Linked DNA regions of Homo sapiens. The protein of the gene in region 1 interacts with the protein of each later gene in a biochemical or structural test. Each region holds a gene or a part of one and is shown on either strand. Other genes may lie near its edges.

Evidence for each region. Proteins that work in one complex are often made in the same cells at the same time.
Region 2: the proteins of ATN1 (region 1) and ZNF608 form a complex in vitro, tested with the Homo sapiens proteins (one study listed by IntAct).

What each region holds. Positions count from the first base shown.
Region 1 is NC_000012.12:6,937,341-6,943,567, reverse strand, and holds the end of ATN1 (atrophin-1), read right to left. Parts: coding exon 6,007-6,227; intron 5,724-6,006; coding exon 5,501-5,723; intron 5,088-5,500; coding exon 4,391-5,087; intron 2,689-4,390; coding exon 2,545-2,688; intron 2,195-2,544; coding exon 2,014-2,194; intron 1,822-2,013; coding exon 1,788-1,821; 3' UTR 1,247-1,787; downstream 1-1,246. UniProt on the Homo sapiens protein: Transcriptional corepressor. Recruits NR2E1 to repress transcription. Promotes vascular smooth cell (VSMC) migration and orientation. Corepressor of MTG8 transcriptional repression.
Region 2 is NC_000005.10:124,743,640-124,751,289, forward strand, and holds the start of ZNF608 (zinc finger protein 608), read right to left. Parts: upstream 3,001-7,650; 5' UTR 2,556-3,000; exon of another isoform or gene 1,534-2,555; 5' UTR 1,351-1,533; coding exon 445-1,350; intron 1-444. UniProt on the Homo sapiens protein: Transcription factor, which represses ZNF609 transcription.

The DNA.
Region 1 (6,227 bases):
CCTTCGTTGTTGTTAAGCCCGGAGACCTGGATTCGGCAGTAAAGGCCCAGAGCAAAAGCCGTTGTCGCAGTTTCCTAAAGGCCTTGTCTATTGATGAGCGATGGAGCCTAATGCCCGGCCCGATTTCCCTTCCCTTCCAGGCTTTTATCACCCACTCCCTTCTCAAACTGTAGGTGGTTAAGGATGCCAGGTACTAATCGCCTGGACCTATTAAAACTAGCCCACCCCACCCCCGCTTCATAACCGGCTTTGTTTTTTGTTTTTGAGACGGAGTCTTGCTCTGTCGCCAAGCTGGAGTGCAGCTGGGGGGGATCTTGGCTCACCATAACCTCCACCTCCCGGGTTCAAGCGATTCTCCTGCCTCAACCTCCCAAGTCGCTGGGACGACAGGCGCGCGCCACCATGCCCAGCTAATGTTTTGTTTTTAGTAGAGACAGGGTTTTGCCATGTTGGCCAAGCTGGTCTGGAACTCCTGACCTCGTGATCCGCCCGCCTCGGCCTCCCAAAGTCCTGGGATTACCAGCGTGAGCCGTCGCGCCTGGCCTCATAACCGTTTCTTAAAGTATTCCACGGAAAGGTTTCAGGACTCTGAAGCCCTTGTTCCGGAGGACTCTGGTGGCTCCTAGCAGTGAGACCCGTCTGAATAGATTCCTAGAACTGACCACGTCAGAGGTGGGCCTGTCCCAGGCCTCTAGTGTTTGGTTGGTTGGGGTGTCTTTTGTTTGTTTGTTTTGAGATAGGGCCTTGCTCTGTCACCCAGGCTAGAGTGCAGTGGTGCGATCATGACTCACTGTAGCCTCGACCCCCAAGTGATCCTCCCACCTCAGCCTCCTGAGTAGCTGGGACCACAAGTGCACCACAACCCCCAGCTGATTTTGTCTTAAGATGGGGTTTCTCTATGTTGCCCAAGCTGGTTTCCAACTCCTGGGCTCAAGCAATCCACCCGCGTCTCACAGGCATAAGCCACAGAGCCCAGACCGAGGCCTCCACTGGCGCGCAGCGGTCCTGCCCAGCCTTGGGGCAGGAGGGGGCACCAGCACCCATGGTACCGCCTCCAGCTGAGTCAAGGCTCTGGGCTCTTCAGGGATCCCCTCTCCAATTCTTCCCAGCCCCCACACCCCGTTCCTTAAGAAGGTCTGGTCTCTTCCCGCTTCCCTGCCAGGCCCTGGCTGCAGTTCTCTCTAAGCACCGCTGCACTGAGACCCAGCCTCACCCCCATATCCCGCAAAGAATAGTCACAGCCATGTTCCTGGGGAGTTGTGAGGATGTTTTTGTTTGGTTGGTTTTGGTTGGGATGTTTTTTTAAGAGCGTCATATAGATATTTATATATATAAATTATTAGTGTGGGGAAGGGGCAAGGGGCATACATTGCAGAGGGGGCGCGCACACAGGGATCGGGGAGGGGCAGGGGTGGCACACGATGCTACGCAAAACAGCCACATCTAACAGATGAAATAATCACACCAACGGGGCAGGGGAGGGGCGGCGGCCACAGGGGTTGGGCATGGGGGAGGAGAAAAGCAGGGGGGACAAGGAAGAGAGACCTGGTCCAAGATTCTGTGCGCTTTCTGTCCCCATCCTCGCCACCTCCCCACCTCTGCACACCACATCGGGCCTTGGCCTTCTGTCTGTCCCTCCCTCCCCCACTCTCTGTCCAGCTGCGGAGGCCCTGCAACTGAGCAGCACCCTCTTGGCTCTGGGTGGCAGGCCAAGGGCACGGTGGGGGGAGGGTGGGGGTGCTCCAAGGTCCAATGTAGGAGCCATGGTGCTCTCTTGATCGCAGGTTCTACAGTGGCTTGTCGCTTTCCTTCTTCAGGTGACTAGGGAAGGGGCAGTGCATAGCAGAGAGGTAAGAGACTTGAGACCAACTCTGACCTTGCCCCCTCTTACCGAAGGGGTTGGGAGAGGAGGGGTTCCCTCCCCCAGGAGCACGGTGCCCAGCCGTACCATGCCCACAGCTCCTCCCAGGCTCGCTGAGCCCATGTCCCCTGGGCTGGGGCACCCTAGGGTACCTGTAGTAGTCCTCCTGGGCAGGCAGCGGCACACTGTGCAGCGGGTGATGGGCATGCAGCCACTGCTGCTGTTCCAGCGCCAAGCGCTGCAGCTCAGCTGACTGTGCGTGCATGGCCTGCAGCTGATGAGCTGCTGACATCGGGGCAGAAAGGGAGGCCGGCAGGTCCCGGTAAGGGGCAGCTGTGAGCAGGAAGGGCAAGGGGCATATGACCAACGGATAACAAGTACCTGCTCTGGACCAGGGGATAGCCAGCTCCTTTACATACAAAGGTAATGAACTAAAAAGTGAGGTAACACACCCAGTTCTGTAAGTTGCCAGTGGTAGGGTGGAATTGGGATTCGAACCTCTTAGGCTGACACTAAAACTCGTGCTTCTCTTGGGCAGAGCTCCAGCTCTCCTATTCCCATGCCCAGCTCCTCTAGGCACCTCCTCATCCCTCCCCAAGCCCAACTAGGCCCATCCCCCCACCCAAATACCTCCTTTCTGCCCTTTTCTCATTGGAGCTGCCTACCCCAACTTCCATCCTTACCAAAGAGCTGGTGACGAAGAACTTCGTTCTCGTGCAGAGGGTGAGGAAGCAGGGGGTTAGGGAGAGTTCCAGCTGGGTAGGGGATCCGGGTAAGGTGAGACCCTGAGGCCAGGGGGTCAATGAGAGGGTGCACCGAGGCAGAGGCTGGAGGGCAGAGAAGAGGAAGGTGTCACCAGAAGGCAGGTTTGGGGCAAACCATGCATTTGGGTGAAGGGATCCAAGCCTGGGAACTGAGTCAGACAAACACAAGGAGGTCCAAAGTGGAACAAAGGCAGAGTGGAAGAACTAGAGGCCTGGCAGGGGTGGACAGGCTGAGCCCTACTGGAGGAGGGACATATGGATGACACAGGACAGGAGATTACAGTCATCAGAAGGGTCTGAGGGGAAGGACAGAGAGAGGTAGACTGCGTGAAGAAGGTGGAAGATGATAGAAGTTTAGAAAATAAGACAAGAAGAGGCCGGGCACAGTGGCTCAAGCCTATAATCTCAGCACTTTGGGAGGCTGAGGCAGGCAGCTCACCTGAGGTGAGGAGTTCAAGACCAGCCTGGCCAAGATGGTGAAACCCTGTTTCTACAAAAAATACAAAAAAATTAGCCAGGCAGGGTGGCACACGCCTATAGTCCCAGCTCCTCGGGAGGCTGAGGCAGGAGAATCGCTTGAACCTGGGAGGTGGAAGCTGCAGTGAGCCGAGATCGCGCCACTGCACTCCAGTCTGGGCAAAAGAAAAAAAGGAAGCCGGGTGCGGTGGCTCACGCTTGTAATTCCAGCACTTTGGGAGGCCAAGGCGGGTGGATCACAAGGTCAAGAGATCAAGACTATCCTGGCCAACATGGTGAAACCCCGTGTCTACTAAAAATACAAAAATTAGCTGTACTTGGTGGCACACGCCTGCAGTCCCAGCTACTCGGGCAGGCAGTGCCTGCTGAGGCAGAAGAATCACTTGAACCCCAGAGGCGGAGGTTGCAGTAAGCCGAGATCGCGCCACTGCACTCCAGCTTGGTGACAGGGCGAGACTCCGTCTCAAAAACCAAAAAATGGTGAAAGGATAGTAAGTAAAGCTCATTATCGCCTATGACACCCAAACCCAAAGCTACAGGGCCCTTTCTAGAAAGTTACAGATCTAGAGATGGGGAAAAACATGAAAGACCTCGCAGAGGGAGAAGAGGAGAAAATGGCAAAAAATGAGTTGAATCCAGAGAAATCAGAAGATAGGTTTGTGGGTTGGGCACGGTGGCTCACGCCTGTAATCTCAGGACTTTGGGAGGCCGAGGTGGGTGGATCGCTTTGAGCTCAGGAATTTGAGACCAGCCATGGCCAACATGGCGAAACCCCGTCTCTACCAAAAATACAAAAAGTAGCCAGGTATGGTGACACACGCCTGTAATCCCAGCTACTCCAGAGGCTGAGGTAGGAGGATCACTTGAGACCGGGAAGTCGAGGCTGCAGTGAGCTGTGATTGCGCCACTACACTCCAGCCTGGGTGGCAGAGCCAGACCATGTCTCAAAAAAATAAATAAGAAGACAGGTTTGTGAAGGGCTTGGGAGAATGGGGCTGTGAGAATAGAAAAGTGTCCTTCAAAAGCTCCCGTGTGGGCCTCTGTCATGGGAAGGATACTAGACTATGGAGAGAACTGGGCTGTGGGGCATACAGGCTTTGTGGCCAGGGAAGGCCATGAGAAGACAAGGCTGAGAGAACGTCAGGGAGGCAAAGTTCAGGGCAGCAATCTCAGGAAAGGTTCATGCCAGGCCAGGGGAGGAAAGTCTTGGCCATAGGAATGAAAGAGCCCAGTCATGATAGGGGGAAGGTGGCCCCAAAGGGCCAGGGCAAGGAAGGAGGGGTCTCACCTGCATGGATAGCATCTTGCTGGTGCAGGTGCAGGTGCGAGTGGATGTGGGAGTGCTGGTGGTGATGGGGAGTCACATTGAGCATCTGCAGCCGGGCCAGTGGGTCATTGCCCAGGGCCGCCACCCTTTCTGCGTGCTGCCTCTCAGCTGCCAGCCGCTCAGCATAGGACATGTCAGGCCGCAGGGCTGGCCCAGCTGCCAGCGCTAGACGTTCTCGCTCCAGGGGCCCCAGGCTCGGATGAAAGGGGAAAGGGTGCAGGCCAGGTGGGCCAGGCTGCAGAGCCAGGCCCCCATGTCGGGGAAAGGGATCCAAGCCCGGCCCAGGGACCCCATGTAGGGGTTCCAGCTCACTAGGCTTCACCTCAAAGCCAGGCTTGAGGCGGTCACGGAGGTCTCGTTCACGGGCTTCCCGTTCCCTCTCCCGGGCAGCTGGATCACTGCTGTACAGGGCCGGGACATTGTAACCCAGGAGCCCCGGGTCCACTGCCCCCAGGGGCACGTAGAATGGATGGTTGCGATTGCCAGGAGACATGACATGAGGCCGGGCATATTCACTGAGAGTGCGCAAGGCTGGAGTGTCAGGACCCAGGTAGGGGGGCACTGTAGCCACCGCACTGCCCGGTTCAAATGGAGGGCGATGGGGCACTGGGCCCAGAGATGGGCATTCCACCGGAGCACGGCCCTCCTGAGCCAACTTCTGTGGGATACAGGGAAAAGTGGAGTCAAAGCGGCAGTTATGAAAAGAGGTGGCTGGTTTTAAGCTGCCCATTTGTTTCGACAGCCGAATGCCAAAATGCCTCAACTCATTGAAACTCTGCCCACCTGGAACTTAACTGCGGCCCCCGCTCCCGAATATTTGCCCTTCTTGGGATCCACAGGTAGTCCCATCTGAGCATGCCTTTTCCCAACCCAGGAATGCAGATGGCTCTCGCTGAAAACCTTTTGGGCTCCATTTCCTGGGCTGCAGTGGTACCTCCCCTCCGACAGGTGGCGACGTGACTCGCCCGCCCACCCAGCCACAGCCCCGCAGCGTAGCGTAGCGCAGCGCAGCGCAGAGGGAAGGAAGGAAAGAGGGAAAGAAGGCGGTGGCGCAGGCAGTGACGCACTCACCACGCTGCGTTCAAGCTCGCGCTCCTTCTCGCGCTCGCGCTCTTTCTCGCGTTCCCGCTCGCGCTCGCGCTCCTTTTCTTCGCGCGCGCGCTGCTCGGCCTCGCGCCGCACCTTCTCCACCAGGTCGGCCCGCTTCTTGGCCAGCTTGGAGCCCTCCAGTGGCACGAAGTACAGGTCGCTGCGCGCGCACGAGTTGAAGCCGCGATCCAGGTGTTTGTTGAACCTGCCGGGCGTGGAAGCAGCGGGCGCTCAGGCGGTGCGAGCTGCCCGATGGAGCCCGCAGCGCCGCGGCCCCGGCGAGTGCTTGTAGCCCCCGCCTCAAAACCACCCCTGCAGGCTGTGAGCTGCTGCGGGCCTCACTGGCCACTAGGCCTGGACGGAGGAGAGGGGCGTGCTTTTCTAAAACACTACACCAGCGCAAGGCCCCTCCCTGCTACTCCCTCTCTCGTCGCCGCCTTGTCGTCGTCCCCTTTCCAGGCCCACCTCCGCCCCACCTGGCCGCTCACCTGGCAGACTGACTGGCATGGCTGGGTACATCTACCACCTTGGGAGGGGGCGAGGGGCTGCGGGCTGGGGGCACCGGGCTCTCGGGGGTCTCATACTCCTCAGCCGGCTCCTGTTTGATCTGCGTGGCGCTCAGGGGCGGCCCTGAGGCAGGGGCCGCAGGTGGTGGTGGCAGCGATGGCAGGCCTGAGGGCCCCGCAGGTGGCAGGGGCCCAGGTCCCAC
Region 2 (7,650 bases), on another chromosome or scaffold:
GGACACATTACCCGCAATACTAGGATGAATAAATTAAAATAGAAAACTGTTCCCCTTAAGGAAGAAAGCAGGACAAGAGTCAAGAGGGTGCATGAGCAGGTTTTCTATTAAAAGCACACGGCAACCTGCTGACTAGTGAGGAACCGATCTACAGGGCAAAAGGTACTTAGAACACTCAGGCCCTCCCACCTGGGAACCCAAACACTAGCATCACAAGCAGCAGCAGCAGCAGCAGCAGCAGCAAGGACAGCAGAAGCAAGAGCCAAACACTGCACCCAAGTAGGCTCCCCCATATCAAATTTTAATATAAAGGATGCATATCATAGAAATCTCACAAAGAACCAGAAAGCATAAAGTGTAAGGCACACAGAGGCACACCCCCACACACCCACACAAATGCACACAGAGGAGAGTAGGACATCTAGGAAGGCGACTTTATCCTACCTTCTCAGTTTTCAGTTTCTTGATTCGCCTGTGGCTCTCCTCCTCCTCCTCTTCCTTCTTTACCAACATAGAGTTTCCCATGAGCCCTGAATCCGGGGCACTTTTGCTAACTTCCCCTGCAGCGGCGACGCTGCCACTCCCAGTGCCCCCGCAGTGGAAGGGGCTCGCGCCACCTCCATTGCTCTTGGCCCCAAAGCCATAGAGGTGCCCCCCGGAAGGGGCCTGGCTGCCACTGCCATTCTGGTGGCCCTGAAGCAGGTCGTGCTTGTCCTTCCTGGATTTCCCCGCATCCTTATCCCGCTTGGCGCCTCGGCTGCTCTGGCTTTTACCTGGCTTCTCCTCTTTGCTTTTCCCACAGGAGCCTGCCCCCGCGGTGGCGGCAGAGGTGCTGGTGCTGGTACTATTGCTGTTTGGGTTGCCGCTGCCGCCGCTGCTCACACTTTGACCCAGCGCTGAATTCATGCCAGTTGCCTCTCCAGGGCGCCCTTGGACTTCCTGCCTCTTGCCAGTGCTGCTGATCTCGGGAATCCCATACAAGGCAGCAGAAGGCAGAGATTTATTAGCATCCTTAGAAGTTTTACTCCTTTTCACTTTTGATTTGCTGGTCTCTTTGTGTGAATTCCCCTGGGGAGCAGAGGCCTGAACAGAAGCAAATTTTAGGCCATCAGCTAAGGCTGCGGTAGCACCAGCCCCACTGGAGGCCGGACCTCCACAATCCTTGGAGTTGCTGCTACTAGTGGTGGTGGTGGAATTATTCATCTCAAATTTCTGTCTGTCCTTCTCCAAATCAGCGTCCAAATCAATTATTAAATTTCCAACCCCGATTTCCCAATCATCGCCACTGTCATAAGTATCAACTGTATTTGGATCCACACCTTTTCCTGCAGTAGAAATGTTCACTGACATCCTGAAGATGAGCTCTCTAGAATAAAAATCCGATGAACTTTTCTTTGGAGATGAGGGGACATTCGTTTATCTCCGCTGGGCTTTCTCTCAAAGAAAAAAAAAATCTTCTAATCTTCCTCTTCTTTTTCCTGCCCCACGAATGTGTCCAGGGATTTTACACCCTCAGTCCAGGTCCACCTTTTCCTGTGAAGGGGGGGGGAAAAGTCGAATATTTCTTGTCTGGGTGTTACCAGAATAAAAAACGATTAGTATTGGGGAATCAGTAAAGGGGACAGGGAAGGATGGAGAGTAAGGTGGCTCATGTATTGTCCTCACAGTCCAATATCAGGTTTAAAGGAAAATAACCAAACCCGAAAAATAAACCTATGACAGTAAGCATCTTACGGTAGCTAAAAAGAAAATCCCTTTATCAACAACACAAGGATAATCACCTTTTTAAAAGCATTAAATTATCTTAAGGATCTGATTCAAGTCCAGAAAGGTTTTTGTGTTCTTTTTTAAAGTTTAGGATTTCAGTCTGGCACATGTGATATCTCAACCCCAGAAACACAGCCTGAACACTCAGACAAGAAGGAAGAACACAGCTTTAAACATCCCTAAACATGTCCTAGATCTTGCAATTTAGAAGACCAGACCCTGGAAGTTCTGAGGCTAGTTTTCAGAATAGAATGTTGCTAAATTTTCCTTATTTCTAATTTAGGTTTCAGTACTTCTTTTTACAAATTGTCTGGGCAATCTGTTTTTTGTTCCTAGTAAGGAACAGAAAAAACAACCAATAACTGCCCCCAACACACACACATACCTCCCTCCTATCCTCTTTTCCCAAACAGCTTCTACAATTTCTTTTTTGAAATATGCATGTCTTTTAAGAGCATTTCTCTCTAGAAAAGACAGTGTTATATAAAAAGTTAAATACCTGCCTTTTGAGAAAAAAATACATTTAAACAATTCTACCATATTCCTAGGTCAGAGAATTGCTCACTCTCTTAAATACGGTGCTACTGACTGTACAGAAAACTGATTAAGACATACACTTTAAGTGATCTGCGCCAAGGTGGCCTCAATGACCGCAAATGAGTGTGTTTGACAAAGAGCAGTTAAAACGGTTTTTAAAGGGATCAGCCCCTTTTTAACAGTTGATTGTCAAGAAAAAAATAAATAAATATACATACACACACACATACACACACACAGACATTGCTTACCTTTTAATCCTTTATCATTTTTTAATTAGGCCAGCAAATCAAAATGCCTTTCCCACTCCACTCGGCAAACAAGCCTGTGCCTCATTTTACTTAAACACCAAATGATCAAGAAGGAAGAAACCAAATAACACATCTCAGCCAGAATAATCACTCGATAACATTATTCCACCTCCCCACCCCCCTTTTGGCAAACGAATCAGTCCTTTTCTCCTTAAAAAAAATGTGTCACTGTACAGCTGGAAAATAATGTTTCACATTCACAACAGAAGCACCAAAGGTTTTTTTTTCCTCTTAACAAGCATCGAGAATAATAGTTTTTTAAAAAACAGAGAGTTTAGAGAAAAAAGTTTTCCCAACTTCTCATTCCGCCTTCAGTTCCAGACTTCAGAGTCACCGTGATCAGTAATGATCCCATGTAGCAAACCTACAGGCGTCCGCTAGTAACGAGACAGAATGTGCTAACATCGGGATAAATTAGTGAAAGGGAAGAAAGAATAAGAAGAAAGGACTGAAAATCTGGGCTGGATTCCGCCTGTTAGTCGGGAAGTGGCATTTTTCCGCCCGTCCTGACAGATTTGATTTCTTGAACTAACTTAAGAGAAAAGGAGGGGGGGAGTAGAGGGAGGAGGAGGAGAAGAAAGGGTGGGATGAGAAACTGGGCAAGAGGAGAAAAAGAAAGGTGTGGAGGAGGAGACAGCAGATGATTCAGTGAGCTGATAAACCAGTTATAACAGCATTCGCTCGGGGCGGGGGGCGGGGGGCTTGGGGCGGTGGGGTGGGGAAAATAACGGCGTTTAAAATGGGCTCAGTCTTCGAAACCTAAAGGATGTGATGTTTTCCTGTCTTATGTTGTTTTAAGAAAAAGGAACTGAGTTCCTAGTATAGCTCCCGAGGGGAGTGGAATCCTCTGTCGCTCAGGTCAGCCAGTCATGTGGTAATTCGATAATTAGAGTCAAAATAAGGTTTTTGTTTTCTTTTTTTTTTTTTTTAAGGCGACCCTTTTCGGGAGTTTTTCCCTCTTATACTCGCAGCAAACGGTGTGTCTCCCTTTTATTTATTTTTTCTCTCCTCTCCCTTCGCCCAGCCCCTCCTGTGTTTAGTCAGATGGCCCCGGAGCTTGGCTTAGTATTTTTAATTAGCTGGCGTTTGGAAGCTAAAAGCAGTAATGAATTGTTGATGGATTGGAAGTGGAGAGTCGCTTTGCTGGAAATGTCGGGGCTGGGAGAGGGGGATGGGCGAGTTAGTAACAACCAACCATCTAAAAGGAGCGATTTTGTTACAGTGCAAGCCTTTCACATCACGTGAGGATCAAGGGCTCAATTGGTTGTCGTGAGAACAAAAATGGTGACAAGCGTATCAAGAAAATACTGATCTGGTCTTTAAAAAAAAAAAAGCTGAAAGTCTCTCCCCTCCCCCTGCACACACTCCCCCAACCTCCTCCCCCCGCCCCCCCGCAGTGGGCGAAGCTACAAGTTATGAATGTGAAACATTTCTCGGAGATCTAGGATCTCCGAAGTTCGGAAGGAGCGAAATGTAATGAGCACAAGAGCAAAGCAGATGTTTTAAAGAAACACTTTATAAACCTTTCCTCAACTTATCTCCAATTTGTCGGCTTTCCCAAGGGGCCAGGGACGGGGACGCCTGGGGGAGGGAGAAGGGTATCTCCGAGCTACTTGGATTTTAGGGACCCCCACTTCATGTATTAAACAAAGAAAAACCTTTTGCTTGCTCCCCAGCCTGGTCCTGTAATAAATACACCATTGTTACTATTTGTGGGTTTGTTTGGGTTGGGTGGGGCTTTTATTTTTTCTCTTAATGGTATTTTTGTTGCTTGCTTTTTTAAGGAGATGGCGAATGGTAATTATAACCATTACATGTAATGAGTGACTATTCCCTTGTTTAATATTAAATTATCGGGCACTGGGATCTGACAGGAGACAGAAATCGGCTTGTTCTGCCCTTGCCCCCATTTTCCTGGATCGCTTTGGGAGGGGGGTCTGCCCAGCTAGGACAGAAGAGGGAGGGAGTAAGGTGAGCTAGAGAATTGACACTGCAGACCAGGATATGCAACTGTGTCACTTTTATTCTCCTTTGGGTTAGAGCCCAAAAGCTAATTTCCTCTAAGTTACCCCGAGTGCCCAGTCAAGCTTAATTTGTGTGAAGTTACAAATGCTTCACCCTCCACTGAATAAAATTCACCCTTCTTGGGTTGTTGTTCTAAATGCAAAAGCCAAACCCTGTAACTAGTTCCTCATTTCTATGCATAAAACTCGCACATTCCCCTGCATGAAGTCCCCGCTAAGTGCTATATAGAGACACACCACGCAACCGTACTTACGGTCTGTATTGGATCGAGTTGACCTTTTCCTTCTAACTGCATTGAATGTGTTTGGTTGCAGCCGCTTTATTTTGGAAATTATAATCTCTTCAACAAATTTATTATTAAAGAAGATGGACCATCAAATGTCACAGACCGTCCTGTGTATTTTTTATAAAAGCAAAAATTAAAATTTAAAAAAAGCAAAACAAAAATCCCCCTGGTGCACACACACAACAAGCTTGTTCTGCAACACTAAATCAGGACTGAAACACAACACACACACAGGGGGAGTGGAGCAAAAGAAGCTCTCAGCCTCTATACCTGAAAGGGACTTTTCTTTGTTCCCAGTGCCCTTTCGCATCGGGCCAATCAGAGAGCAGCTTTTATGAAACTGGGCTCTCTCATTGGCTAGCTGCTTTCTCTTGGCTACTGTAGGGGGTTGAGATATACACACGTATAAAACACACACTGAGAGCGGGTGGGGGTGCTGTGGGGGGTGGTTGTGGAGACAAAGCGTTTTATTTTCCAACCAGATTGGGGTTGAGGAACCTCCCGCAGTAAGAAGGCAAAAAAATGGTGCGCCCCTTTCAATTACTACATCATTCACATAAAACACTTATTTATTAAAACAAATCTCAAACAGGCTGCGAGGAGAGGATGTCGGTAAATACAAGTTTGATTGTGTTATCTTGGGGGAAATAATGTATGTGATCGCTCGGTGGCAGAGAGAAGCCAAACGAGCCGCTAGCGCGTAGCGAAGAGAAAAGGGAGGCTGGCTGTGTGGAACTGACTGCGAGCATTTTGCCGGCTTCCCTTCCTTGTTCCAAGGACTTCGCAGCCCAACTCCCAAGACTGATTTTCTGTATTGCAGCTTCTGGCTTTCAACCCTCCCCCCACCACTTTGCCCTTCCTGCAGTTTTTTTTTTTTTTCTTCCCTGTGTCTCTCTTTTTACTCGCTGATTAAATAAGAAAAATCGATCTGCGGGTAAAGGCGATGGTGGGGAAACAAGTAACCCTTTTGTTTCCAGGGCTCTGGTCTACAGGCACTGAAGTGTGAACGCAGGCGACCATTTAACCAACACTATGTGAATGGTTCTTCCCTGGAATTAGTAACAAATCTTTTCCACCTGGTGTTATGTGACTCCAAAAAAGAAAAACTTAATATTAAAATAAGGCCCCAGCTAAACATAGTAACACCTCGGGCCAGCCTCATCTTTTAAAAAATCGACTTATGAAAGTTAAATGTACTAGGAAGATTAACTGTTAAACAGTCCCAGTACACGTATTTAAACTGTGGAAGGGTCAGAATTCCTCTTCCCCCATATCTTTAACCCCACTGGTGGGGAAGGGGGCATCATGAATCCTCTGAATGCTACATCTACAATCCACAAACACAGAAATATTTTAGAATTTATTGTAGGACAAATGCCAGCAACCAAGTTAATGAGACTCAGCTCATAGGATAAGAGAGGTTAATATGAAATAACAAGTTTAACATTTTACTATAACAGCTAACATATTTAAGCTAATGTATTTACATATATTAAGCCTTTAGAGTACATTTAATTTTTAATTTTTTATTGTTACCTTCATTGTTTTTAGAAGCTACAATATGGACATTTGAAAGTCAAAGGTTACTGTAAACTGAAAGCATCATGATCCCAAGTTTTAAAGATCCAGTACTACTGGGATTGTAATTTCCACGTGACAATTGTAATTTAAGGTTGTGTCTTAACTGAGTCATATGGACATGTAAAGTGAATGAGTGCTAGCAGAAGACAGCTTCTGATGTAAATATTCAGTGATGACTTCGTGGATCAATAAAAATATTTATGTCACATATTTTAAATAATGGCTATTGACTCATGTTTGAGCTTTCAATATATTTAGTCCATAAAAAAATTGCCAATTAGCTGTTTCACTACCATAAATGAACTAGATTTGAGGCTGCAAATAGTAATAAACAGCAGTTTCCACCCTTTATTGGGACATATAAACCAGAGGAATGCAATCTGTACTAGTCCTTAGCTCTCCCTAAGTCAATTTGTATTCAAATCAAAGCTGTACTTTAACAAATAAAATGGGCAAATTAGGGATCTGATATCTACCTAGCCTCCATTTTAGCTTTGAGATTTGTTTTATATTTTTGAATATACAGATTTTACATTTGTGTATGCCCCATTGATAAGAATACAGCACCATACTGTTTTTTAACTTTTCTTCTTCTAAAAGAGTGATTTCTCAAAGGATCAGATCACTCTTGGGCACTTCCTGTGTCCCTGGGGTGTCATCTACATCTCAGCCTTTGGAAGCCCATGCCTACCCCATATGTTATATTAGTTTGGAAATAATATATAGGTAGTTCTTAAAAGAATGGGACATTTAAAAATGAGACCTAGTGAAGCTGGAGAAGATTGGAGTTCCTCCAATACAAAACAAATTACAGCGTCTGCAGCACAGATGAAGTCTAACTAAAACCAAAGTTTAGGGTTTGTAATAATCAAATAATCTAATCTAACCCGAGCTTCAACACTTAAACCCAAACCTTAAACCTTTCTGAGAAACCCTACTGGCCCAAGATGAAGGCTTAGGCCCGACTCTACCACATATTTAACCCAAACCATTTTGATAAATTAAAGTATTTCCTTCCATTCCAACATCTCCACACTCCATTTACACCCCACCCCCACCTCCTTCCTCCCAGGTTCTTCCAGGAGACTTTTGAATAAACCAGTGTTGTCAGACTGGCTTTTCTTGTGTTTGTTTTGTTTTGTT